Linked DNA regions of Homo sapiens: regions 2, 3 and 4 are each linked to region 1. The links come from fine-mapping of genetic effects on gene expression. A gene starts in region 1. Each other region holds a variant in brackets. All regions are shown on one strand. Distances are between the middles of the regions. Region 1 holds the start of CRYL1 (crystallin lambda 1). Region 2 overlaps CRYL1 (crystallin lambda 1). Region 3 overlaps IFT88 (intraflagellar transport 88). Region 4 overlaps XPO4 (exportin 4).

Evidence for each region. PIP is the estimated chance that this variant, and not a neighbour inherited with it, causes the effect.
Region 2: its variant is the best candidate, but not a certain one, in a credible set for the expression of CRYL1 in whole blood (TOPMed, PIP 0.78).
Region 3: its variant is the best candidate, but not a certain one, in a credible set for the expression of CRYL1 in whole blood (INTERVAL, PIP 0.86).
Region 4: its variant is the best candidate, but not a certain one, in a credible set for the expression of CRYL1 in visceral fat (GTEx, PIP 0.85).

The regions. Positions count from the first base shown.
Region 1 is chr13:20,521,616-20,528,154 of GRCh38, forward strand. CRYL1 (crystallin lambda 1) reads right to left here and starts at 4,242. Exons shown (of 8, transcript NM_015974.3): 1 at 4,139-4,242. The coding sequence starts at 4,179. RefSeq lists a silencer at 3,918-4,467 and an enhancer at 4,648-4,757.
Region 2 is chr13:20,481,271-20,488,708 of GRCh38, forward strand. All of the region lies in intron 3 of CRYL1 (crystallin lambda 1), which reads right to left. Among named protein-coding and RNA genes, the nearest start is that of CRYL1, 41 kb to the right of the region's middle. The variant T/C (reference allele first, on the strand shown) is at 4,638.
Region 3 is chr13:20,590,902-20,599,109 of GRCh38, forward strand. IFT88 (intraflagellar transport 88) reads left to right here. Exons shown (of 26, transcript NM_006531.5): 5 at 66-119; 6 at 717-780; 7 at 1,434-1,503; 8 at 5,249-5,339; 9 at 6,114-6,218; 10 at 7,750-7,852. Among named protein-coding and RNA genes, the nearest start is that of IFT88, 28 kb to the left of the region's middle. The variant G/A (reference allele first, on the strand shown) is at 4,063.
Region 4 is chr13:20,813,483-20,819,505 of GRCh38, forward strand. The region is part of intron 9 of XPO4 (exportin 4); the gene reads right to left. Among named protein-coding and RNA genes, the nearest start is that of EEF1AKMT1, 43 kb to the left of the region's middle. The variant A/G (reference allele first, on the strand shown) is at 2,694.

The DNA of each region.
Region 1 (6,539 bases):
CATGTCTTAAAGCTTCTGAATTCATGAATCTTAATGGGTACTACAAAAGGTGAATGCAGATGAACATTTATTCTGTTACACAGTAGCAAAGCAGCAGGGGAGAAAAGTGATATAATTGCTTCAATTCTATCATTAATGTCACTTAATTTTGAATAAATTCACTTTAGATACATTTGAAAGTATCTTTCCAGCTACAGTTACTTATTTACTGGGTAAAAATTGAAGTAAAACTGTTCCTACACTCATGATCTCAGTCTACTATGGAAATTTTGCCAGAAAGAGCTATTAAGTAACTCCTGCGAAGGGCACATTTAGTGTCTAAGCTGACTCAAAAGGCAAGGAGGGCATCCTAGGGTTTGCTGTGTATGTGTACAAAAATTAGCAGGAAAATACCTAGAATAGCACTTCAAAGAAAATTCATGCCTCAGAAAGTTTCTTATAAAAAATGCACAGGCCAGGTGTAGTGGCTCACGCCTGTAATCTCAGCACTTTGGGAGGCTAGGGTGGGCGGATCAGTTGAGGCCAGGAGTTCGAGACCAGCCTGGGCAACATGGAGAAACCCTGTCTCTACTAAAAATACGAAAATTAGCCAGCAATGGTGGTTCGTGCCTGTAGTCCCAACTACTTGGGAGGCTGAGGCAGGAGAATTGCTTGAATCCAGAAGGCAGAGGTTGCAGTGAGCTGAGATGGTGCCACTGCACTTCAGCCTGAGCCTGACAGAGCAAGAATCCGTCTCAAAAAAAAAAAGTACAATCACCCCAAACAAAATTTTGGAATTAAAAAAAATGAAGGAGACTGTAGTTTATAGGATACCTTTCTTTCTTGCCTTTCTAGTTTATGGGATGTTTTTCTTGATATAAAACAACGTCCTACCAAGCCCTTCATAGGGCACATCAGTTAAAAAATAAGCAGTCTCTGTTACAAACGCTCAACTATCTGTCTATTGGGACCACGCATGGTGGATACAAATGGCAACAATACAGTTTCTATCCTTAGGGGAAAGGCCCAGAAGCAGAACTTTTCCTGGAGGAGACAGTCCCTGAGCTTGATCCTGAAAGAGTGTGCCCCCTAAAAAGCAGGACAGGAGAAAGGGCATGCCCTGCACCAGGAACATTTTGTGTTCCTATTCTAAACAAGCTCAAGGGCTACAAGCTGAATCTTGCAGTGTGTATACAAATACAGAACTCATATTTTAGCGATTTAGAAACACAGTGTTTTATAAAGGTAAGGCTAACAAAATGAAAGCCTTAGAACACTACTCCAATGCAAATTTATCTTCATGATACCCATTTCTACTTTTTTTTTTTTTTTTTTTTTTTTGAGATGGAGTCTCACTCTATCCCCCAGCTGGAGTGCAGTGGTGTGATCTTGGCTCACTGAAACCTCCGCCTCCTGAGTTCAAGCGATTCTCCTGACTCAGCCTCCTGAGTAGCTGGGATTACAGGCATGCACCACCACGCCCGGCTAATTTTTGTATTTTTAGTAGAGACGGGATCTCGCCATGTTGGCCAGACTGGTCTCGAACCCCTGACCTCAGGTGATCTGCCCTCCTAGGCCTCCCAAAGTGCTGAGATTACAGGCATGAGCCACCATGCCTGGACTTCTACTCCCATTTTTAAAAGTTATCACTACCAGATTTTCCTGCAGCCCTAGGCCCAAAAGAGTTTCTCTCATCCTCTTTCAAGCCCTCCCCATTCTGAAGGGACTTGCCCTGGATGTTTATAGGACAGCTAAGTGGCCCTAAGGAAGAGTGAACTTTGGAAAAAGATCAGCGGAAAAGAATTAAGTGGGACTGTATTCCTAGCAGGTACTTTCAAGATGAAATCTATAAACTGATAAGGAAAGCTGAAAACACAATATGCTCCTGAAATTGAAATATGTATATTTTGGTCTGTTGAAACCTAAGAATGAAACTGAACCAGGTTTTGGCAAATTAATTGACATTCCCCAAGCCCTATTTGTTAAGTGGGTGTTCCTTGGAATCACCTGTGGGGCCAGGAAAGAAATAGAGGGACGAGAAAGAAGGGTGGTAAAGAGGAAGGGAAGAAACCAGCACTGTCCCAGAGGCAGAGCTGGGTGTGTGCTGAAGTGCTGAGGGTGGGGGAAAGACAAGATTTTCACACCAGAAAACAAAGAAACAAGCAGAGGCCCCAGAGAATTATGTGGTCCTTAAAGTTTGGAAGCCTTTCTCTAATTCCTTATCAACATCCCTCAAGGAATCAGAAGTAAACTGTTAACTGAAGCTCCTCCTCAGTAGACTGAGCCACCCACAGCCAGATAACTGCACAATCAACTAAAACTTTACTTCACATGTATTAGGTGCATGCATAACACTACTCCAAGGCATGATGGACCTATACAAGGCCAAGCAAGGTGGCTCACAACTGTAACCCCAACACTTTGGGAGGCCAAAGCGCTTGCACCCAGGAGTTCAAGACCAACCAGGGCAAGATGGTGAGACCCCATCTCTACCTAAAAATTTTAAAAATCAGCCGGGTATGGTGACACATGCCTGCTGTGGGAGGATGGCTTGAGCCCGGAAGGTGGAGATCCACCATGATAGTGCCACTGCACTCCAGCCTGGGCGACAGAGCGAGACCCTATCCTATTAAAATTGTGTGTGTGTGCGCGTGCGCGCACGCATGCGTGTAAAAACTGTGTGTGTATATATATGTGTGAGTGTATATATATACACACACACATAAACTCTGGTAACTATTAATAAAATGCAAGACAGAGGTAACTACCACCACTGGTACAAAGTGCACTTTTTTTTTTTCAGACGGAGTTTCGCTCTTATTGCCCAGACTGGAGTGCAATGGCACCATCTCGGCTCACCGCAACCTCCGCCTCCCGGGTTCAAAGGATTCTCCTGCCTCAGCCTCCCGAGTAGCTGGGACTACAGGCATGTGCCACTACGCCCGGCTAATTTTGTATTTTTAGTAGAGACGGAGTTTCTCCATATTGGTCAGGCTGGTCTCGAACTCCCGACCTCAGATGATCCGCCTGCCTCGGCCTCCCAACGTGCTGGGATTACAGGGGTGAGCCACCGCGCGCGGCCCAAAGTGCACTTTTTAATATGCCTTCACTATTCAACCACGGGCACTCATGGGCCAGAAAGAACAAAGGCACAGTTAACTCCACTGCTCTGGAGAAAAGAAAGCTGACAACAAGGAATCTGATGCCTTCCTTCAGTGGGAAGGAAACACCCTGACATTGGAAGTGGTCTCCACACCGGGTTGTACACTGATGGGGGGCGGAGTCGGGGGCAGGCCAACACCTCAACAGCAGTCACCAAAAAGGTGCTTTTAACTATCAATAGCAAGTATTAACATGTTTATAGATTGCTGCTAACAGCTGGCCAAAGAAAGGTACATACAAATGCCCCTTTTTAAAAAACAAAAATAGCAAGGATTGTAACCGTAGGGGTGGGGGGCGGGGTGGGGGAAGCACACACTAAAAATCAGTTTGGGCAGAATTTAAGCTGTTAAATGGACACACTTAGCAAACTCTCTGGGCTCCATCGGCCCCCACCTCCCCTCTGGAAACATCGCCTCGCCCAGGAATTAGGACTGCGTGTATGTTCGCCTAACACCTGCTGCGGCCTCCAGCGACATCGTCGCCGACAGGACTGCGCTGGCACCCTCCCTGCTGGGCTAGTCCTGTCTCCGTCACTAAACGCCTGTGACCTTAGGTAAACTGCTTAGTCTCAGTATTCTCATTCGTAAAATGGGGATGAGAACACAGTCGTCGCAGGATCGCAGCCAGAATTCGTTTCATTCAACACGGTGCCTGGCACTTCTATGTGGACCTGCGGGCAGACGCGGCGACATTCAACAGAGTCCAGGAACCGCAGGCCCCGCGGCCTGGGCGGTCAACCTCGGAACCTCCTGCAACGCTGGCTCCCGGGAAGCAGACCCAACTCCGCGGGGCGCCTCCACCTGCCAAGCCCCTCCAGCCGCGCCTCTCCCCGAGCCCGCCAGCGCCGTAGGGGCCGCAGGGCGCAGGGCTTCGGAGGACCGGAGGCCGGGGCGGGGACAGCGACCCGGCGCCCACCCCGAGGGCCCCACGCGAGGGCACCACGTCCCCGGCGTCTCCCCGGGCTCCAGGGGCAGCAGCGCGGCTCGGAGCCCTTTACCTGCCAACGATCACCACGCAGCCGGCCGCGGAGGACGCCATGGTTGGGCCGGGGACGCGGCGCCGCGGGCGCTGGGACCAGGCGCCGGCGGAGCTGCGAGCTCTGGGCTCCGGGGAGGGCGGGTCCCGCGCCCATTGGCTGCGCGCGCGGACCGGGAGGGCGGGGAGGGCCGCTTGGTCCCTGAGTGGGGTGCGCGCCGCGGGCCCGAGACACCGGGAGACACACGGCGCGCCGACCCTCGTGGGCAGGGGCAGGACCAGCGCGGGGGCACGTCGGGGGGTGGAAAGCGGGAAGACCACGCGCTTGTGACTGTCAGCATTCACCGTGAAGTCCGTGTCTATAGGAGGGGACACGGGCAGGCTGGCACGGGCTCTAGCGCTAAAGCACCCTAGAGAAACTGTCAGAGAATGTCCCCTTTGCTAATTCGTCTCTGAAAGACGCCTGCCGCTGCCGCCAACTGCGAACTGGGCGCAGGGACTGCGACAGCAGTGAAAGAGAACACCTGATGCGTTCATCTGCGCTACGGAAGGACACGTCTGAATTCCTCCACGGAGCACACTCTGCACTCGGTTTATGTATCAGAAAAAGGAAATGCCCTCGTGCCCTGACTCCTGGCCTTCTTGGAGCCCGGAACAGACCAAGAGGAAGGGGCATCACACATTGCCTGACAGTGGTGTGCGTCCACACAGCACAAGCTGAACGGGAAATGACACAGTCATTAGACAGAGGAGACAGTACTCAAGCTGGAACCGCAGCCAACACTGAGATGATAAAAGGAAGTCTTCCTTTGTTTCCCCTGAGTCAGGAACGTGGAAAGAGAAATCTCAGGGGAGGGGTTAGGTTTTTTTGTTTTGTTTTGTTTTTTAAAGAACAGTTTCACAAATTATCGATAAATATTTGTAAAGTATTCAACCTCAAGAGAAATGAAAAGTAACACAAGGAAGATAAGTCATCTCTCACTCATCAGATTGGCTAAGTCACATGGATTGATTATATTCCCATATCCGTAATGGAGTGTTTCGGACATGCAACTTACACACAGTAGAAGGCAAGCTTAAATGTTGAGGACTTTTTGGAGGGAATGTTACAGTACATTGTTGAGACAGCCGCTAGCCTGAGCAACCGCGCCTGCTCTGGCTGAGAATACAAGGCTCCAAAGCTTCCATCTTCTGATGGAGCAGTTTCTGTAGTCAGTTACACAGGCAGCCAATATAATAATCAAGGCACCCAGGGAGTGAGCATCCTGTGACTGCTCACTACCGGAGGCTATGGGGGCAGCAGACTGGCTTGTTTGCTGCTCCCTGCAAAGTCATGCCTGAAATCCCAGCGCTTTGGGAAGCTGAGTAGTAAATAATAGCTTGAGGCCAGGAGTTCAAGACCAGCCTGGGCAACAAAGCGAGACCCCTGTCTCTACCAAAAAATTAAAAAACTTATCCAGGCTGGTGCCGCCTGTAGTCTCAGCTACTCAGTAGGCTGAGGCAGGAGGATTGCTTGAAGCCAGGAGTTTGAGACCAGCCTGTGCGAGATAGTGAGAACCCCCCCCCCCGCATCTCTAGTGTGTGTGTATATATATGTGTGTGTGTGTGTGTGTGTGTGTGTGTTTATATATTTATTTATTTATGTGTACATATATTTATAACTTTAATCCTTCTGGTACCAAACAAAAAAAATACAGATTTATTTAAATTAGCCAGGTGTGGTGGTGCATTCCTGTAGTCCCAGCTACTCAGGAGGATCTCTTGAGCCCTGGAGTTCAAGGCTGCAGTGAGCTATGATTTTGCCACTCTACTCCAGCCTGGCTAACAGAACAAGACTTTGTCTCAAAAGAAAGCAAAAGTGGCTGGACGCGGTGGCTCACGCCTGTAATCCCAGCACTTTGGAAGGCCGAGGCGGACGGATCACAAGGTCAGGAGATCGAGACCATCCTGGCTAACACGGTGAAACTCCGTCTCTACTAAAAATTAGCCAGGCGTGGTGGCAGGCGCCTGTAGTCCCAGCTACTCGGGAGGCTGAGGCAGGAGAATGGTGTGAACCCAGGAGGCAGAGCTTGCAGTGAACCAAGATCACGCCACTGCACTCCAGCCTGGGCGACAGAGCGAGACATCATCTCAAAAAAAAAAAGAAAGCAAAAAGTGCTGGGCCCTTGCTCGTTGCAAACACAGGAGTCATCTGGCCCTCTATGTAACCCTGTGGGAATTAAGGATCCAAGAACCCATATAAATATGGTGTCACTCTGGCTATTGCTTTTACTGTAATAAGATAATTTATTTTTAATCCAGGAGTCTCGTGACTTCTGTCAGCATCCAAGTGCAGAACCTCTGTTGCAATTTAGTGAAAATCTCAGACCCTTGCAGTTTCTGACATACACAAAATTTAGAATGTATGTACCCTTTGGCTTAGC
Region 2 (7,438 bases), 40 kb before region 1:
CCAATCAACACAACCACACAAGCCACGTCAAATTCATTTTACTCTGTGAAAGAAACCAAACTCAAAAGGCTGCATCATGTATGATTCCATTTTACATAACATTCTGGAGAAGGCAAAACTATAGGGACAAAGAACAGATCAGTGGTGGGCAAGGCCTGGGGAACGGTGGGAGGAAATTAGCTGCAAAGGGAAGGAGAGGCTCTATGCTCTGAACCCCAGCTGTGACGCTGATTTCATACGTGACTGTACGCATCTGTCAGACACATAGCACTGAACCCTGAAACGAGTGAATTTTCTTGTATGGAAATTATATCTTTGTAAACCTGATTTTACAGTTTTTAAAGAAAAAAACACGTATGGCCATGCGTGGTGGCTCACTCCTGTAATTCCAGCACTTTGGGAGGCCGAAGCGGGCAGATCACCTGAGGTCAGGAGTTCAAGACCAGCCTGGCCAACATGATGAAACCCCGTCTCTACTAAAAATACAAAACTTAGCCCGGCATGGTGGTGGGCGCCTATAATCCCAGCTACTTGGGAGGCTGAGGTAGGAGAATTGCTTTAACCCGGGAAGCAGAGGTTGCAGTGAATCAAGATCGCACCACTGCACTCCAGCCTGGGTGACAAAGGTGCGACTCCATCTCGAAAGGAAAAAGAAAAAACACATACAACAGAAAAAGTGTAACTCCAGTTTCCTCGCACATTCCCGAATATTCTCAGGGCTGGCCATCCCATGTGTCCAATGCTGCCTGAACCCCCCACCCCCACACCCATCTCTACCAAAAGAAGAAATATTCTGAGTCTCAGTGAACCAAGACTGAAAGTCCAACAATCCTTTAAGAAAACAAATAAATTTCCAAAAGAACGCTACTTCCTGTAATTACTGACAGTGTCTGAAGGTCCTTTTCAAAATGATTAGCATTCTCTCCATTTTAAAGATATAGTTGAGATGCAAATTCTGATCATCTACATAGACAATATCCATTTAACTTCTCGATTTCAGCTATTGCAGATTGTTCTGACTTTGTGTAAGGAAACCCCATTTAAACTTCGTAACTCTATAAATCATTCCCATGGCTCCCACCAGCTACTGTGATCTCCGGTTTTAAGTTCCAGAGATTAGATAAGGCCTCGACATAGTGGCTAATGAGCTTTAATGTGCTTTAAAAGTCAAGGCTTGAGACCAGCTTTTCAGAGTAAACTTATTTTTCCAGAACAGTAGGTTTTCTTGCCAGGCAAGATTTGATTTCAAAATTGCACTAAGTTCTAGAAATTCAGGTTTCTTTCTTGCGTGCTCCCGGATTTCAGCAGAGTATTAGGAAACGTCCTGACCCAGGCTCCCCGCCCTCTAGGGTTGGGTAGAAAACAATCCACTGGGGAAAACCACACTCCCATTACTGGGCTTCGCCCCCTGGGGCTGGGCAGATCCGACAGTGGGATTATTTTTAGTTGAAGCATTGTGGCAAGCAGTCTGTGTGTGTGTGTGTGTGCGCGCGTGTGTGTGCGCACGCACACACGCGTCTCCTCAAACTCTGCCTCCTGCTTGTGAACAATTCCCTAAATAGTAATAATTTTCTTTTTATAAGAAAACCACAGCAACATATTTTATAAGAAAACTGTAGCAACATAGATGGCATTGGAGATCATTATATTAAGCGAAGTAAGCCAGGCACAGAAAGGCGAAGATCCCATGTTCTCACTCATGTAGGGGAGCTAAAGCAGTGGGTCTCATGGAGGTAGAGAGTAGAATGGTGGACACCCGCAGCCGGCAGTTACCAGGAAGGGGAAGGAGCGATGAAGAGAAGCTGGTTAATGAGTACAAAATACAGTTCGCTAGAAGGAGCAAGGTCTAGCATTCAATAATACAGTAGGGAAATTAGAGTTAATAATGTTATATATTTCAAAATAGAAGATTTATAGTGTTCCCAACACAATAAAAGATAAACGTGTGAGGTTCTGGATATCCTAATACACCGGGATTTTACCATGACACACTGAACACACAAATCAATCACACATGAATCCCAAATATGTACAATTAAGATACAGCAAGTAATTTTTTATTTATTATTATTTTTTTAAGACGGAGTCTCACTCTGTCGCGCAGGCTGGAGGGCAGTGGTGCGATCTCGGCTCACTGCAAGCTCCGCCTCCTGGGTTCACGCCATCTGGACTGACCATATCATCAACATGAAGTCAGCTTTCTCACTTGGACTGTAACGTACCACATCATCATTCTAAAAGAGCTCTGTACAGTCTTTCTTTTATTTTGGTTTGTCTGTTTGTTTTTGAGACAGGGTCTCACTCTATCACCCAGGCTGGAGTACAGTGGCGGGATCTCAGCTTACTGCAACCTCCACCTCCTGGGCTCAAGTGATCCTCCCACCTCAGCCTCCCAAGCAGCTGGGACCACAGGCATGCACCACCATGCCATGCTAATTTTTTGTATTTTTGGTAGAGACGGGGTTTCACCATGTTGCTCAGGTTGGTCTCGAACTCCTGAGCTCAAGTAATCCACCCGCTGTGGCCTCCCCATGTTCTGGGATCGCAGGCATGAGCCACCACATCCAGCCCTCTTCTCGCTCTGTCGCCAGGCTGGAGTGCAGTGGCGCGATCTTGGCTCACTGCAACCTCCACCTCGCAGGTTCAAGTGATTCCCCTGCCTCAGCCTCCCGGGTAGCTGGGACTACAGGTGCCCACCACCACACCTGGCTAATTTTTTGTATTTTTAGTAGAGACAGCATTTCACCGTGTTAGCCAGGATGGTCTCCATCTCCTGACATCGTGATCTGCCCGCCTTGGCCTCCCAAAGTGCTGGGATTACAGGCGTGAGCCACCGCGCCTGGCCAAAATACAGCAATTAATTTTTTTTAAAAAAAGAAAACTGTCTCCAAGTAGCCTAGATTGATTTTTCTACACTGAGAACCTTCCCTTGTATAAATCAGAAAAAGGAGCTGTGAGAGCTGCTAAGAGGGTGCCACTGGCAAAAAGTCTGTGGACCCTGAGATGAGGCAGCACCACAGGGCGGGTGAGTGGTTGCCAGCAGATGAGTGGTTGCAGCCCGGCAGAGGCTGCGGACTTTGGGAACCTCAGCTTTAATGGAATTCTTAGACGGAAGCTTCTTTCAGGTTTGCCATCAAATGGTGACTATCACAATTTTTTAAGTCTAAAAATTATATGTCTCACTTGAGGTCAGGAGTTCGAGACCAGCCTGGCCAACATAGTGAAACCCTGTTTCTACTAAAAATACAAAAATCAGCTGGGTGTAGTGGCAGATGCATGTAATCCCAGCTAATTGGGAGGCTGAGGCACGATAATCGCTTGAACCCAGGAGGCAGAGGTTGCAGTGAGCCAAGATTGTGCCACTTCTCTCTGATACAGCCCCGAGCACATCGTACAGCAGGAAATGTTCTAAGTTTTAAATAAAAACCATGATGCAAAATTCTATTTACAGTATAATCTCAAATGTATTAGAAAGAGAGAAAATAAACAGGAGAAGTGGAAACATATAAATACACAAAAATCTTCAGTATTTTTGGAATAATGAACCTAAACAGGATTGTCCTAAACTTTCTTTACAACACAGAGATGTTTAATTAGGTAAGATACATGTTTAACATTACATTGTGTTAGAAACACTAATGTACTTTAACAAACATGTGGGGCAGCATTAGGTAGGTTTCACTCTGGGGGTTTCATTTACTTGTTTGTTTGGTAAACCTGAGACACTAATATGCACTAGGTTTTGTTGTTGTTGTTGTTGTTGTTGAGACAAGGTCTCACTCTGTCGCCCAGGCTGGAGTGCAGTGGCTCCATCTCGGCTCACTGCAACCTTTACCTCCTGGGTTCAAGTGATTCTCATGCCTCAGCCTCTCAAGTAGCTGGAATTACAGGCATACACCACCACGCCTGGCTAATGTTTTGTATTTTTAGTAGAGATGGGGTTTCACCATGTTGCCCAAGCTGGTCTTGAACTACTGAGCTCAGGCAGTCTGCCCACATTGGCCTCCCAAAGTGCTGGGATTACAGGTGTGGACCACCACGCCCAGCCTATGCACTAGTTTTAAAATTCAGAGGATTAAATTTGCTTTACATCATATAAAGAAATGTGTAGGCTGGGCGCAATGGTTCATGCCTGTAATCCCAGGACTTTGGGAGGTGGAGGCAGGTGGATCACTTGAGGTCAGGAGTTAGAGAGCAGCCGGGCCAACATGGTGAAACCCCATCTCTATTAAAAAATGTACACAAAAAATTAGCCATGTGTGGTGGCACATGCCTGTAATCCCAGCTACTCAGGAGGCTGAGGCATGAGAATCCCTTGAGCCCAGGAGGTGGAGGTTGCAGGGAGCTGAGATCACGCCACTGCACTCCAGCCTGGACAACAGAGCCAGACTCCATCTCAAAGAAAAAAGAAAGATAGAAAAGAAAAGAAAAGAAAAGAAATGTGTAAACATGCCCAAGAAAATCAGTTAACTGGCAAAAATGAACTGCTGATTCTTTTTTCTTACTCATCTTTCCTTCTGATTCATTTCATTCTCCTACTAAATACCTTCCTTGCAGGATTCTAATCAGGACTTAGATTGAAATCCAAACCCTTTAGTTCTTTATTTTTTTTATAATTATTTTTTCTTCAGGTCTCA[T/C]AATATTTTGTTTGTTTGTTTGTTTTTTGAGATGGAGTCTTACTCCAGTTGCCCAGGCTGGAGTGCAGTGGCCTGATCTCGGCCCACTGCAACCTCCACCTCCCAGACTCAGGAAATCCTCCCACCTCAGCCTCCCAAGTAGTTGGGACCACAGGCACATGCCACCACACCCGGCTAAGTTTTTGTATTTTCAGTAGAGATGAGGTCTCACCATATTGGCCAGGCTGGTCTTGAACTCCTGAGCTCGAGCAATCCGCCACCCTCAGCCTCCCAAGAGTGCTGGGATTACAGGCGTGAGCCACCACACCCAGCCTTCATCTTTATTTCTTTAAAGAAACACATAAATGGTGCTTCTCTTCGTGTACTCCTCTAAGCACTGTGTATTACTCAATTCACCTAAGTAATTCTTCAGGTTGGCATTCGTAGCATGGCGACTTGGTTTCCACCTTGGACCAGCCTTTCCTACCTTTCCAATGGGTCTGTAACGTGGCCTTAGAAACATCCTCAAAGGGACTTCTCATCTCATTCATCTCTTCCTCCCACACAATCCTCCCACCCCCACCCCAAAATCCACTTGTCAAAAGTCAAGACAAGCTCTAATCCTACCTGCATTAAACCTTCCCGAAGCCTCCCGGTCAGAACTATTCCTACCCACTCCTTTCTCTGGTACTGGAGGTACAACAATTTCTGAAGAATATAAACTCTCATAGGAATTAAACCTACTAGTTTACATCATCTTTCTCTAGTTTCCTCTCCTCATCCGGCTTGGCTCTGTGTTCTACATAATAGATATGGCTCAACATGTCATGCCTTGTAAATACACTCATTTAATCTATAAAATAAAGATAGACTGTAGTTAAAGAGCAGTTTTCACTAGTGCCAACCATGTACAGAACGCCATATACTGCCCCATGTCATTCTTTATTACCAAAATTGTTATAAATGGCCACATTATAAAATAATTACCATTTCCTGAGCATTTTCTGTGTGCCAAGTACTATGTAAGTGCTTTACATGCCTTCTAAATTCACATATTCCCCCCAAATTACTCTTTAACAGAAAAACTTGCCTTATTACCCAAGTCTATTATAATGTTCTCATATTATGGAGGGTTCACCACTTTATAAAAAACAATATACTCTTTGAGGGAGACACATTAACCAGAACTAATTCAGTTAGGGTAGTTTTGGATGTTTATAGAAATCATATGATAAACTATCAAAAAAATGGGATGGGGAGACAAAGAAATTTAACATGGATAGATGAATTATTCCTAGGGGATGACTTTACAATTGTTACTGCTAGGAAATTTATAAAGTAGCTATAGAAAGATTCTTTAAAAGAAAAAAAAAAGCACAGCAAGTTGCCATGCTATGGAATCACAAGTGTATTATTACAAAAGGAAAAAACATCTAAATGTTTGAGAATTAGTCTTTGAGGCTGGGGATAAAATTTGCAGTGCCAGCATTGTAGATGGGTTCAAAAAGCTCTGCATAGCAAACATCTCCAAGAGGCAAAGGTAACATGGTCTGGGAACTCTGTTCAGAGAGACTCAAAAAGTGATTGTAATGAAGACAAACATGCTGAAGTTGGAGATATCAGCCCAGAGTTTGAACAAAAGCATTCTGTGAAATGTGAAAGTAGAAATATTATAATAATAGATCACTTATTAATATTTCAATCACATTATATAACTAAATACTTTCCTTAAAAACTAAACTCACGGCTGGGAACAGTGGTTTATGCCTATAATCCAAGCTACTTGGGAGGCTGAGGCTCAAGAATCGCTTGAACCCAGGAGGCGGAGGTTGCAATGAGCCAAGATCACACTACTGAACTCCAGCCTGGGTGACAGAGCGAGACTCTATCTCAAAAAAAAACAAAAAACAAAAAGCAAAAAAAACTTAACTCATGCAGTTTACCGTGGCTCACGCCTGTAATCCCAGCACTTCGAGAGGCCAAGGCCAGCGGATCACTTGAGGTCAGGAGTTTGAGACCAGCCTGGCTAACATGGTGAAACCCTGTCTCTACTAAAACTGCAAAAATTAGCTGGGTGTGGTGGTGCACACTTGTAATCCCAGCCACTCCACAGGCTGAGACAGGAGAATCGCTTGAATCCAGGAAGTGGAGGCTGCAATGAGCCGAGATCACACCACTGCACTCCAGCCTGGGCCAACAGAGTGACTCTGTCTCAAAAAAATAAAAAATAAAACTAAATTCATGTGAAAGAAGCTTCTCTGCCAAGACCAGGCCTGGAGAGCATCTGTGCTCTTCAGAAGCAACTCTGCCAAGACCAGGCCTGGAGAACATCTGTGCTCTTCAGAAGCAACTCCTCTTATAGCACCTGCAACTACGGGTAGAAACAGGTGGCACTGGGAACTCATTAGGAGCCCTCAGGTCTCTTTAAAGTCCCTTCAACTTCATACAAACTTCACCATATCAAGAGATAGAGGATAATATATTAGAAAGAGATAAGAAGTTGAAAAACAGTCCTCTCCTTGTGTTCTGTTGTGACACACATTTGTTTAATGAATTTTTAGCAAATTGAGAATTTAACAATTTTAAGAAATTTTAGAGTCATAGAGACCTAAAATCTCCATCTTCTGTATTTGACCCGAATCTTAGAGCAGGAAATGACCAGAGAACACACACAGCCTTTTCGGTTTGCTTCCAAATTCTCAGCTAGAATATCAACAGAGTAACGACGTGAAATGTGCAAATCTCAGAACACAAAATATCAAGGAAAGATACTGGGAATAATGACTCTTTTAGCTTTAGGTAAATTTGCATAAACCTTATAG
Region 3 (8,208 bases), 70 kb after region 1:
TTGGTTTAAACATTTAAGGCAGATATTTTTAGGAATCTTTTTAACTTAACTTTTCTGTTTACTAGTCCAAGACATCTCTGGCATCATCAATAGGAAGACCAATGACAGGGGCTATTCAGGTATCTCTATTGGATGCATGTTCATTTTGTGCCTTTCTTGTGACTTGGAATTTACTACCAAAGTTTTTTTACTTTATTATATTATTTTAAAATGTTAAAGAAGATATTACTTATATAGTGACCCAGATTCTTTAAATTGTGGGCTAAAGTCTACACTGTTGTAAATCTTTGAAGGCGAAGTCTCTTTAGATTTATTTACTCAGGTATCAAATGAATTCCCATTGGGGTGTGGACATAGAACTGATAATTGCTTATATGATGTATTCTGGGGCCCATTTTTCCTGTTACCATTTACAACAATTTCTGTGGTTTCTCTCATAGGCATGTAAGAGACCAACCAAAAGTAAGAGAGTAGCTGGCTAATAAGCTGATTAATTTTTTTTAAAACTATAGCCCAATTACATCAAAGAATTGAAATTGTAAAGGTGAGAGAGGACATGATTGATACATGAGGAGGTAGAAGTAAGGAGTAAACGTATAGTGATTGAAAATCAGCATTTTTTTAAATAGGGCTATATTAAGGTGTGTGTAATGTGCAGAACTGTACATAGGAGATAGATCTTATTTAAGAATAAATGATTCCCATTCTCTTTAAAGGATGGAGTTACTAGACCCATGACAGCAGTGAGAGCAGCTGGTTTTACCAAAGCAGCTTTGAGAGGTTTGTTACACTGTCTCTACTAATAATCTTTTTTGGATCTTTTAATCTTTTATCATTTTGTGATATAAATATTACTGTCATTTTAAATAAAATCTAACAATGCCATTGATTATAAGATGCACTGATATTTTAGGTACCATTAAGAAAGGAAAAGGATGATGAAAACCTTCTACATATCTGTTGGGGTGGTAATTAAACCATGGTGTAATTTGTCAAAATGCATTGAAATAATATGTAAAAAGTTAAATGATAATTTAAAAATAAAATTATAACAAAAATTAATGTTTGGTATGCCAATAAGGAAAATTAAAAAGCCAATAGCAGGTTATAAGACATGTGACTGATAATTTAGAGTTGATAATAGAGATAGATCACTGTGGAAGAGAAAGTAAATGCTGAGAATATCTTATTTTTGTTTTTAAGTTTAACACACGTATTATTTACATAGCTTTATGTGTGTTAAAAATCTTACCAATTTCCCAGTATATGAAATGTTTATGTAGACACAATGTTATCTCCATTTAATAAATAGATAATTGAAACCATTTAATAAAGAGGTAAATGAAATAGCTTATGCGAGGTTTTATATTTTCATATATTCTTCGATTTTGCTGAGTTACAAATTGAATATTAACTCTTGAATTGTGTCTCAGGCTCTGCATTTGACCCCCTTAGTCAGTCAAGGGGCCCTGCTTCCCCTTTGGAAGCCAAGAAAAAAGATAGGTATGTAAGTCCTTATGTTGTTGTTTGTTGTTGTTGCTGCATATTTTAAATTTTTATTTTCCAAATACACAATTTTTTTTTTTGAGATGATATCTCACTCTGTTGCCCAGGCTGGAGTGCAGTGATGCGATCTTGGCTCACTGCAACCTTCATCTCCCAGGTTCAAGCGATTCTTCTGTCTTAGCCTCCTGAGTAGCTGGGATTACAGGTGCCTGCGACTACATCCAGATAATTTTTGTATTTTTGGTAGAGATGGGGTTTTGCCATGCTGGCTAGGCTGGTCTCGAACTCCCAATCTCAAATGATCTGCCGACCTCAGCCTCCCAAAGTGTTGGCATTACAGGCGTGAGCCACCACACCAGCTCACATAATTACATAATTATGTGACTTCCATAAGAATTACATAATTATGTGAATTCCATAAGAATTACATAATTCTTAATCTTTAAAAAGTTTGTGTCAGCAGAGTAGTAAACAAAAAATCATCCCTAGTTGCCAGAACTAACAAAATTAAGAATAGCCATATGTATTCTGTGCAATTTTATTGTGATATTATATGACTTGAAGATATGGTCTAATTTTTTATCAGGGCCAGTATTGAGTCTCCTGACAGCCAAATGGGGTTGTAAATGTTGTAAGATATGATTATCTTGAGAGGACATTTCAAGGGAAAAAATTAAGAGAACACATATGAAATTAATGTGTCATATTATTGAGAAATTTAATTTTTTATAGAACAAACTTAATTTAGTGCTAGTGGCTAGACAGTAGCCAAAAAGCTATGGTATACATTTAATTATATACATCTGCTGGTATCCAAGTACCTTGATGTATACATTTTACAAATAGTAATAAAAGCTAACATTAACTGAGTCCTTGCTGTGTGCCAGGCACTTTTCCAAGTACTTTCCCTATGAAAACAGAGCTATTATTCTCACTAGTTTATAAAGAGGGGAGCTGAAGCCCAGCTATCTTAACTTTCTAAGGCTAGTAAATGACAAGGCTTAGATTCAAACCCAGTTTTTCTAGTTCCAGAGCTTGGGCTCTGGAACTAGAACTGGAATTAGTCACTATACTGTTTTGCTTCTATAGAATATATGTTTTTAAATTGTAATTCTTTTTTTTTGTTTCTTTTTTTTATTTAAATTGTAATTCTTAAACCCAGTATTTAGGCTTTCGTGTAAATTACATAATTTCCATTTTTGACTAGCAAGGAACCTCTATAGAAAATCATGTTATTTTTTATCTTAATTAATGACAGCACATTAGCTAATAAAAGCATTTTTTATTTAAATATTATGTCATTCATGGTCCTTTTGGCTGCTAATAACAGAAAACATGTTTAAAAAAAAGTAAGGACACAGGCCGGGCGTGGTGGCTCATGCCTATAATCTCAGCCTTTTGGGAGGCCAAGGTGAGAGGATCACTTGAGCCCAGGAGTTCAAGACTAGCCTGGGCAACATAGCGAGACCCCGTCTCTACAAAAAAATTAAAAAATTAGCTGGGTATGGTGGCACACACCTGTAGCTCCAGCTACTCAGAAGGCTGAGGTGGGAGGATGGCTTGAGCCCAGGAGGTGGTAGCTGCAGTGAGCTGTAATCATACCACTGCACCACAGCCTGGGTGACAGAGCGAGACCCTGTCTCAAAGAAAGACTTAAAAAAAAAAAAAAGACATATACATAATTAACAAGAAAATTTATTATCTCACATAATAGGAAGTCTGGAGGAAGGGAAGTTCTGGGGATGGTTAATTTAACTGCTCAGTAACATCATCCCTGGTCCAGCTTCTCTTTGTTTCCCTTGGCTTTCCCCAAGCGCCTGCCGATCATTATGATGCCAAGAGAGTGTTGAGAGTTCAAAATCTCCATGTAACTGATATAGTCTAGAGGCAGAATGTTCCTAGTCTTAGGTCTCTTAAAAAGCCAAGAAGATCTTTCTAGCAGCCCTGTACCTGAAGCAGATATGCCTTCATTTCTCAGTGTGGAATGCATCAAATGCTCGTGGCTGAACCAAACACTTGGCAAAGAGAATGAGATTCTCTTGACTTGCTTAGATTCTGCATGCAAAGAAGAAGGGCGGGTGGCAGGCTCTGTGTGGGTAGGTAGCCAACAGTGCCTGAATATAGATTGCATTTTTTTTGCATTTGATAGGGACAGGGTAAGTTACTTTCAGTGTCTTCATAAAGTTCTCTTACAGATTTTTAAGTTTAAAATTCTATGTTGATATTTTGAATTTAATAATAAAATCTGTAAGCAACATTTAAGACATACATTCAAGTGTTTCAGACAACTAGAAAATAGAATTCTATACTTCATGTAACCTTCATAAAACTACCATCTATTATGCTTACTGCTCAGTTAGAATTTTACAGATCTTTATAAACTAATAAACTTTGTAGTCTTAGTCCCAGGTTTCCTCAAAGAATATAATTTTATAGAAAAAGTTATGCTGCTCAATTTATTTCTATATACTTTTATAAAATCCATTTGTAGAGAATTAAGAGAACTACTATCTATTCTGATATAGCAGTAGTAAAATTTTATTTAGGCATTGATGT[G/A]TATTCAGAGTATTGTTGTATTTTGCCAAAAGAAAGTGGTAGCAAAACAACATTACTGTTATTTTGAAAGGTAACTGATTTGGGAATACTTGATTTGCTATTAATAGAGCCAGGATTTTTAAACTTCTTCACCTCATTAGAAACTTTCTCTATGGCCAGGCATGGTGGTGCACGCCTATAGTGTCAACTACTCAGGAGGCTGAGGCAGAAAGATCGCTTAAGCCCAAGAGTTCAAGCCGTAGTGCATTATGATTGTGCCTGTAAATAGCCACTGCACTCTAGCCTGGGCAACATAGCAAGAACCTGTCGTTTATTTTTATTTTTTTTTATTTTTTTGAGGCAGAGTCTTGCTCTGTCACCCAGGCTGGAGTATGGAGTGCAGTGGCGCAATATCACTCACTGCAACCTCTGTCTCCCAGGTTCAAGCAATATTCTCCTGCCTCAGCCTCCCAAGTAGCTGGGATTATAGGTGCCTGCCCCAACACCTGGCTAATTTTTGTATTTTTAGTAGAGGCAGGGTTTCACCATGTTGGCCATGCTGGTCTCAAACTCCTGACCTCAAGTGATCTACCTGCCTCAGCCTCCCAAAGTGCTGGGATTACAGGCAGGAGCCACCACGCCTGGCCATGTTACCTACCTTGACTGTTGTTATTATTTTACTATTATGAATAATTACATGATGTAGTTGTTAAAAACAGTACTACATTTGCTCTTTAATACCATGTATACATTTGTCTTATCTATAACTATTCTTGAAGTTTAAATGCACATTGTTCAATGTTGAAAGTAAATTAGGCTGGGTGTTGTGGCTCACACCTGTAATCCCAGCACTTTGGGAGGCTGAGGAGGGAGGATCGCTTGAGGCCTGGAGTTTAAGACCAGCCTCCCTGGGCAAGATGAGGAGACTCTGTCACTACAAAAAACAAAAACAAAATTATTCATGTATGGTGGCATGCACCTGTAGTCCTAGCTACTTGAGAGGCTGAGGTGGGAGGAGATGACCTGAGCCCAGGAGTCAAGACTACAGGCTGCAGTGAGCTATGATTGTGCCACTGCACTCCGTCCTGGGCAACCAAGTAAGACCTTGTCTGTAAAATAAAATAAAATAAAATAAAATAAAATAAATTTTAGTATAGATTTTTAGAGGTTGAATGATTTAAATTGTACCTGCTTTTGTCTTTAATAGCCCAGAGGAAAAAATAAAGCAATTAGAGAAGGAAGTAAATGAGTTGGTAGAAGAAAGCTGTATTGCCAATAGTTGTGGAGACTTAAAATTGGTAAGTTCATAAACAAGATTCAAAATTATGAAGCATTTATAGATGTATGTCTGCTTTTATACATACACCGTATGTATAGACAAATATTTTTGTTTGCCGTTGACTGGTCTTAGGATAAGAAGCAATTATTTTGAGAACCAGGAATTGTAACTCAGTTTCATAAATTTGAATGTCAGAATAATTGGCTGGTTTTGTAATTTTTGACATTGGCCTTTTCAGTAGGGAAAAAAATTCTAATGTATTTGTATACTTAACTTGGCAGCCTGGTGGACTATTGGATTAGATAGCAATATGCTGCTGAAAGGTGTAGCTACCATGAGCCACACACAGTACTAAGGGCTGTTTTCTTCTTGAAGTCTCTCTACTATCAAATATTTTTTCCTAAGTAAACTAAAAAATTAGTTTGCTTTTTGGGAATCTAACTTGGCTTTTTAAATATCAATCTTTACTTTTAATTTGCTTTGTTCATGTTACTTTGATTGTCATATCATATAAATATAATTTCTGTGAGTTATTGGATTAATGAATACCATTAGAAAGAAATGTTCACTTTAAAAAGCTGCTTTTACTACTCATAGAACTGGGGCTTTTTTTGTCATTCTAAAAAACAAAAAGTCCCTTTCCAAGGGAAGTTTCTGGTAAGAGCACACAGGGGTGTCTTGAGGAATCTGAGGATAGAAAATGAATTCATCCAACCTTCATGTAGATATTTCTCAAATGCATAAAAGTTGATGAACACTCAAAGGAAGTTACAAGGTATAAATCTGATTTCAGGCCTTAGAAAAGGCAAAAGATGCAGGAAGAAAAGAGAGAGTCCTGGTGAGACAGCGAGAACAAGTTACAACTCCAGAAAATATCAATTTGGATTTAACTTACTCAGTAAGTATTGAAATATAACACAATTTTTAAATAAAATTTTGACTAGGGTTAATGGGTTCCAGAGTCTTTTTTCTTTTATTTTTAAAATCTTACTGGTCTTCAGGTGCTCACAATTAGATTAATAATAATCTTTAGTTCATAAAACACTCTTGTCTTTGTTTTGTGCAAAGAGCTCTTTTCTTTAGTTATTTAACTAGTTATTTTAGGCTGGGTGCAGTGACTCACGCCTGTAATCCTAACACCTTGGGAGGTCAAGGTGGGAGGATTACTGAGTGAGCTCAGAAGTTTGCGACCAGCCTGGGCAACATAGTGAGACCTCGTCTCTATTTATTAAAAAATATGTAGCCGGGTGCCGTGGCTCACGCCTGTAATCCCAGCACTTTGGGAGGCCGAGGCGGGCAGATCACAAGGTCAGGAAATCGAGACCATCCTGGCTAACATGGTGAAACCCCATCTCTACTAAAAATACAAAAAATTAGCCGGGTGTGGTGGCGGGCGCCTGTAGTCCCAGCTACTTGGGAGGCTGGAGCAGGAGAATGGCGTGAACCCGGGAGGCGGAGCTTGCGGCGAGCCAAGATCTTGCCACCACACTCCAGAGCCTGGGCGACAGAGCGAGACTCCGTCTCAAAAAAAAAATATATATATATATATTTTTTTTTTGATAACTTGGTAAGTACCTGCAAACCTACCATGCAATGGCTCTATTTCTTGAAGAGCACTAATTTTAATGCTCTATCAAGGTGGTTATTTTGATGAGATTGTAATGTAGACTTTTCGGTCAGTGATTTTCAAGAACTTTAGGCATATAAAATAATGTTCTATGAGGGTAGTGGGGAAAAAAAACTAATGCCTCTAATTTCTAGCAACATTTATTTAATTCTGAAAAGACACCTCCATAATGTTTGCACTTCTGTTTAAAAGGGTGTATTTTCAGTGGGTAAAGGTTTCATATGCTAAACACATAGGAAAAAAAGGGCGTTTGAAATTTTGAAGTGTTAGATGCTTACTGTTTATAGCTGATACTCTACGATTCCATGAAATCTTTCAGGGATAATTTATGATGATCATTTTTTACCTTTAGGAACATAATTTACTATAAATTAATTACTTAAATTGTAATTTAGTATATAGAGCTTACTATACAGATTCTTCTGATAGACTTTAAGGTTTAAGATATTTCCACGTTTAATTTATATTTAGTTCACGATCTTGCTTATTTCTTTGATCACCAGCAGCATTAATGATACACATTTATTCTTTGTAGGTCCTCCAGAGATTAATAGATGGCAAATACTACTAAATTAAATAGAATACATAGAAAATTAAGGTGAAATTTAGAGGACAGGTCTTCTTTTCTTAATGTTCATTTGTAATGCAAGATAATTCTTTTGTTTACTTAATTTCATAATTGGCTGAGTATCTTGATATAAGTAGCTAACTTTGTTATAGGATTTTAATCTCTAGAAAGATTATAGGTGAAAGGGGCCTAAAGTGGTCTTATGTGTCTTTTCTATAATATTTTCTTCCTTAGGTTCTTTTCAATTTGGCCAGTCAGTATTCAGTTAATGAAATGTATGCCGAAGCACTTAACACTTATCAAGTTATAGTCAAAAATAAGATGTTTAGCAATGCAGGTAAGTGTACATAATCAGTTTTTCCAATAGATGTAATTCTTTCGTAGTGTTAATTTATGTCTCTTCATTTTATGCTTCCTTAAAATGAAATGATCTATGCTCTAAACAAATCAGTATTTATGATAGGGGTATCCTGCTTAAACATACTATTTATATAAAAATCCTTACAGATGAAGAAATATAGTTAGTATGAGGTATATTGCCTAATAGTATCCTGTTATCACAAGTAGAATGAGCCATGACATCCTCATAGAATGTGCTTTTCCTTATATAAATTTATCCCCAAGAGATTATAGTTTATATTTAGCATTTATATTGTGTAATTTTTTGGTAGCAGTATTAATGTTTATCAGAAT
Region 4 (6,023 bases), 290 kb after region 1:
ATCATATTTTATGCCTGCTAGTTTGGCAGTAAATGTTGGTGAGAACATGGATCATTGAGAACTCACATACACGTAATACACTGGTCCAATCACTTTCGGAAAAATTTGACACTACTATCTTCTAAAAGTGAACATTTACATACTCTCTGATCAAAAAATTCCACTCCTAGGTTTATACTTTAGGAGAGCTCTCAGTCAGGCATGGTGGCTCATGCCTGTAATCCCAGCACTTTGGAAGGCTGAAATAGGTGGATCACCTGAAATCAGGAGTTCAAGACTAGCCTGGCCAACATGGCGAAACTCCGTCTCTACTAAAAATACAAAAATTAGCCAGGCGTGGTGGAACATGCCTGTAGTTCCACCTACTCAGGAGACTGAGGCAGAAGAATCGCTTAAACCCGGGAGGCAGAAGTTGCTGTGAGCCAATATTACGCCACTGCACTTCAGCTTGGGTGACAGAGCAAGACGCTGTCTCAAAAAAAAAAAAAAAAAATCTATTGAACGCTAAGAGCCAGGCACTGGAATATGGAGATGAATAAGATACTTTCTTTCCATAGAAACATCTGTGGCCTGTTTATATACTTAACAAAGCATGTGCTTTACAGCCATCATTTGTTAAGTCTTAACAGTTTATCTTGCCAAAATAAACAGACTGGTAACATATCACAAGAGGAATTTAGGAATAGCATCCTCTGACTCACCCAGTCTCCAAAAAAAAAAAAAAAAAAGCAGGATATTTTCTAAGACCTATCTTGGTTGTTTTTTAGGTACATATCTAACACATGTTATCGTGGTTTAATTATTCATATACATAAAAGTATAACTAAAAAGTAAAAGTCTTATATGCCTTTCTATTATTAAAAAAAGTTTTCAATAATCCCTCCTATTAACACTCTGATATTAGAACAGAAGATCAGAGGTAGACTGCAAGAGCCTCAACTCATTGGATGGCAATTTACAGTAAGACTATGGACTTCTAAACAGCCTTCTGGTTTCTTTTGGAGATAATATAACTCATCGAGCAAAGTGTGAGAAATATGGTTGTTGACAATTGGCAACTAAATCTTTCAGTCTAATCACAGAAAACTGAAACCTAACCTAGCGCTTTTTCATAATACCCTGGCCCTGCTCCATGGCCACTCTGGCCAAAACCCAGCAGCCAAGGCAGCAGCACGTGCACAGAGATGACTAAGGAGACCAAGCTAGACACTATGTGCTCATGCCCTTGGTATTGTCAGGCCTGCTGCCAGAGAGGCTTTGGAGAGGGGCTTAGAGCTTACGAGACTACTTGACCCCACTTTACTCCATCTGGAAATGCAGGGTGGAGAAGGTAATCAAATTATGATATCAGCACTTATCTCTCAATGCCCATAATTACCTTGGAAGTATATAGAGCAATAAATTTGCAACCCTTTAGTCATAGAAAAAAATCTTTTACGTTTTGGTAATTATGTTGAATACATAATTCCAAAATAGTGGTTACTTTTATTTATGAAAATGCTGTCAAATGAAGCTTTGAAAAGAAAACTTTCAATATATGAAATCTGTCCCCTTTTTGACATCAAATTGAATTTCAGAGATTAAAATCTAACAACACTACACGATTCCAACTACACGACATTCTAGAAAAGGCAAAACTATGGAGACAGGCGAAAGATCAGTGGTTGCCAGAGGTTGTGAGGGGCAGGGAAGGATAAATAGGCAGAACACAGAGGATTTTCAGCACAGTGAAACTACTCTGTATGATACCTTAATGATGGACATCACACACTGGTCCAAACCCATAGAATGTACAATGCCAAGAGTGAACCCTATGTACACTATGGACTCTGGATGGCGATGATGTGTCAATGTCGTTTCATCAGCTGTAACAATGTACCACTCTCGTGTGGGATGTTGATGGGTGAGGGTGGGGAGGCTGCATGTTTGAGGGGGTTTGTATTTTCACCCAATTTTTGCTGTGGACTCAGAACTGCTCTAAAATATAAAAAGTCTTTATCTATATTTATATTTATCTATATAAATCTAATATCAGGTACTGTAAAAATATGAGCTAAATCTCATGCTAAGGTAGTTAGTTTGTTTTCCTGTGAACAGCAACTAATCATCATGACAACTCCAAATCCTTTCAATGAAATTGGAAAGCTTTTTCTGTTGATCATCAAGATTATCTTCATATGTAAACATAAATAACGTGTTAGATATGTGATTCACAGACAAAAAATGCAGTGAGATGAATATGGGCAATTCATTTTCACAGAAAATCTTATGTCTACAGAATATCCTTCAAAAAGTTCCTTTTATATTATTCTTTACAACAGTTTGGAAGTGAAAACAGCTTCAACTATCAGAGATTGTAGAAGCTGCAAAAAAGTGCCCAAAACACTGGCTGGGAAGTTCACCAGCAGCATCTGCTTATAGACTCACTTGGCAGAAATAAGTAATGTACCAAACACTTGCATGCAATAACAGGAGAAGGAAAAAACCACAGGTTAAAAAACAACAGAAAAAGGCTCCATCAATATACTATACTATTTCTTAATCTGCGTGGTTGATACATAATCGTTCATTTCATTATTCTTTATATTTTTATAACATAAAACTAGTACTTTATATGAATGAAACATTTCACAATAACTTTAAAATTTACAGGCATCAGCACAATCCCCACGTCTAACAACAAATCACAAATA[A/G]TATTTGTGCTGCACAGTGTAAAACATTAAGAAGGACATATGAACGATTAAAGACTGAAAGAGCTATACTATTAGTTTATGCTGTTATTCATCTGCTATTGGTATGTAGATTCTTTCCTAGCGAAGTATCATTTAAGGCAAATATGGGAACAATATAGTGACACAAATGTCACAAAAAAAACTTCATGAACTCTCCACTTAAAAATGTAGGAATTTAGAAGTCTTTGAATGTCAAATGAAAAATAAATCCACGTCTAGTTATTTTTATTTTTTCTAGCTAGTTCTTAAAATACAGAATTAATTTAACTTCAGAATACCTATGCAGCTGACAGTATTCCTGGTTTCTGGAATCCCCCAAGAGAAATGGATTTAGTAGACAAGTATTGCAGCTGTTAGAAAAATCTTACAGACAGATCACTTAAATATGATATGGAACAATAGTTATAACAGTAAGTAAGCTTTATTCTAAATCCACTGCACTAAAGGTGCAAGAATTCTGTGAAACTTAACACTGGTTCTGCACTAGGATTGGTAAAGCAGATTTAAACAATCAGAGCTGACTCATACAAGTCATGAAATATTACATGGTTATCATCCAATTAGAATTAAAACATTAAAACAATTCTTAAAACACTTCTTTTAATACGAATCTGTATTTAAGGTAAAATAGTAACTAGTTTTCTTCCAAATATCCTGGTAGAGCTAAAACTATTGTTATTATTTCTAAAAAGTATACTTTTAATGTGCAAGCTTTAAAAAATACTCATGGATTTAATTCTATCTTTTAAGCAGAGGAAATGAATGTGCTTGATGGGTGGGGGGCGCTGGACAGCCAGCTTGCTCTCTCCAGTATCATCAGTTTATTCTTTTATAGCTACAAGAACCGTTTGGTGGGGATGTTGGCAAGGATCTTCAAACAATCCATCCTTTCATGGGTGAAGGTGCAAGGTAGACTACACAGTTACACTGTACGGACACAACCATCCAGAGAATAAGTATTGTTTTCCCTCTTATCACTGAGATATCCCAAAATTTATGCTCCCCACTTCTCAATCTGTAATTTGGCTTCAATTTATGGCTTCCTTTTTGTCACATAACCTCACTACAAAGTAATTACCCAACAAGCCAGAGAAATTAAATTCTGAATCAAGAATGCTGACCTCTAAATACACTCACTCACTTGACAAATTGCAAATTTATTTTATTGCATTACATTCTATAATCAACTTCCTAAAAACTTTATCAAGTACCTTTTTCTTTACTACCTTGTCCTGCTGGTCTTGAGATTAGGCTACAAATATACTAAAACTAGATGTAAGGTTCTTCCTTTATAAATTGTTATTTACCACGATTGCCCTTATACACAACACATACATCAAAATGCATATACAAAATACCTCAATGCTATGAAGGCTGCTCTGTTCCTGTAGCAACATACTGCACAGCTTCACCTACTTGGCTGAACTCAAAATGGTTAATTATAAAAGAAACCAAGAAACAAACTAGAGTATACAGTTCTAGTCATATTCTCCTTGAATTTCACTGAAACAATTCAAATGCATCTACTATTATAAATCTTTTATAAAACAGCTGTTGTATTAATATGAACAATTATTGATAGAATTTTAATCTTTTTTTGAGACAAAGCCTTGCTGTATTACCCAGGCTGGAGTGCAGTGGCATGATCTCAGCTCACTGCAACCTCTGCCTCCCGGGTTCAAGTAATTCTCCTGTCTCAGCCTCCTCAGTAGCTGGGATTACAGGAGTGTGCCACCATGCCTGGCTAATTTTTGTATTTTTAGTAGAGACGGAGCTTCGATGTGTTGGCCAGGCTGGTCTCCTCACCCGACCTCAGGTGATCTGCCTACCTCAGCTTCCCAAGGTACGGCCGTGAGCCACCAAGCCCAGCAGGATTTTAATCTTTAAGGCAATACTTTTTCATCTCCACATTCATTCTTACCTCTTCAGTTCAGCAATAGATAATAATTTGATTTCTGGGTATAATGAAAAAATTCTTATCTCCAAAAAGTCTCAAATAATATCAAGAAACTTCTGCAGCCACAGAGAAACTTGGCTGAATACCAGAATTGCTCTTTGTGAACACAGACTCTCAGTTAACTGCAAGTCAGAGTACTCATAAATATGTCTCTTCACTCACATGCTAAAGCCACCCAGCAAGGTGGCTTTATGACATGGGTTTCAAAAACACACACTGGTATCAAGAATGCTTCTTCCTATGAAGATGCTCTTCTTCCCTTGCTACACAACGTTACCACCATCAAAGACATGAATTGCTATTAAAAAAGATGATAATCTGTATATATTCCTAAACAAACACAGCTCTGAAAAAAGTATTCTCACAGTAAAACAAAGTCTTACATGTGGAACCTGTTTTCCTACTGGAAAAAGAAGCTTTCAATATTTCACAAAATTACAATTATAAAAATCATTTAAAAAATAATTTTAAAAAATTAGAATTATAATTAGTTTGCACCAAACAAAACTCAACAGTTGTTCTTATGTGGTAAGAGTGCACACAGGTTTTCAATAAAAGCTATTATTTTAAAGGCTCATTTTAAAAAATTATTCTACATGTTATTGCTTGTAATAAATTATTGTACACTATACACGTCCCCCTCCCCCTCCCCTTTGTTTTTTTGTTGAGATGGAGTTTCGTTCTTGTCACCCAGGCTGGAGTGCAGTGGTGTGATCTTGGGTCACTGCAACCTCCGCCTCTCGGGTTCAAGAGATCCTCCTGCTTCAGCCTCCCAAGTAGCTGGGATTACAGGCGCCCGCCACCATGCCCGGCTAATTTTTTATATTTTTAAGTAGAGAAGGGGTTTTGCCATGTTTGGCAGGCTGGTCTCGAACTCCTGACCTCAGGCAATCCGCCTGCCTCAGTCTCCCAAAGTACTGGGATTACAGGCGTGAGCCACTGAGCCCGGCCTATACAGGTACTTTTCATGCAGTTAATCCACGTCATAAAGCAGTAGAAGGAATTCATACCCTGACTTTACCAATAAGCTAACATGCTCCAAAAAAAAGTGAAGCAGCTTGCTTGAACTCTTGCTCTTCATGACTGCCTGGCCTGTAACTGTGCAGTCTCCCTCAAAAGTTCATCATCTTTTCATCCCATGTTAACTCCCAAACTCATATCTTTAATATGCCTCAATTTTTCAAATTTTACTTAAAAGATCATGTCTTGGCCAGGCGCGGTGGCTCACACCTGTAATCCTAGCACTTTGGGAGGCTGGGGTGGGTGGACTGCGAGGTCAGGAGTTTGAGACCAGCCTGGCCAACATGGTGAAACCCCGTCTCTACTAAAAATAC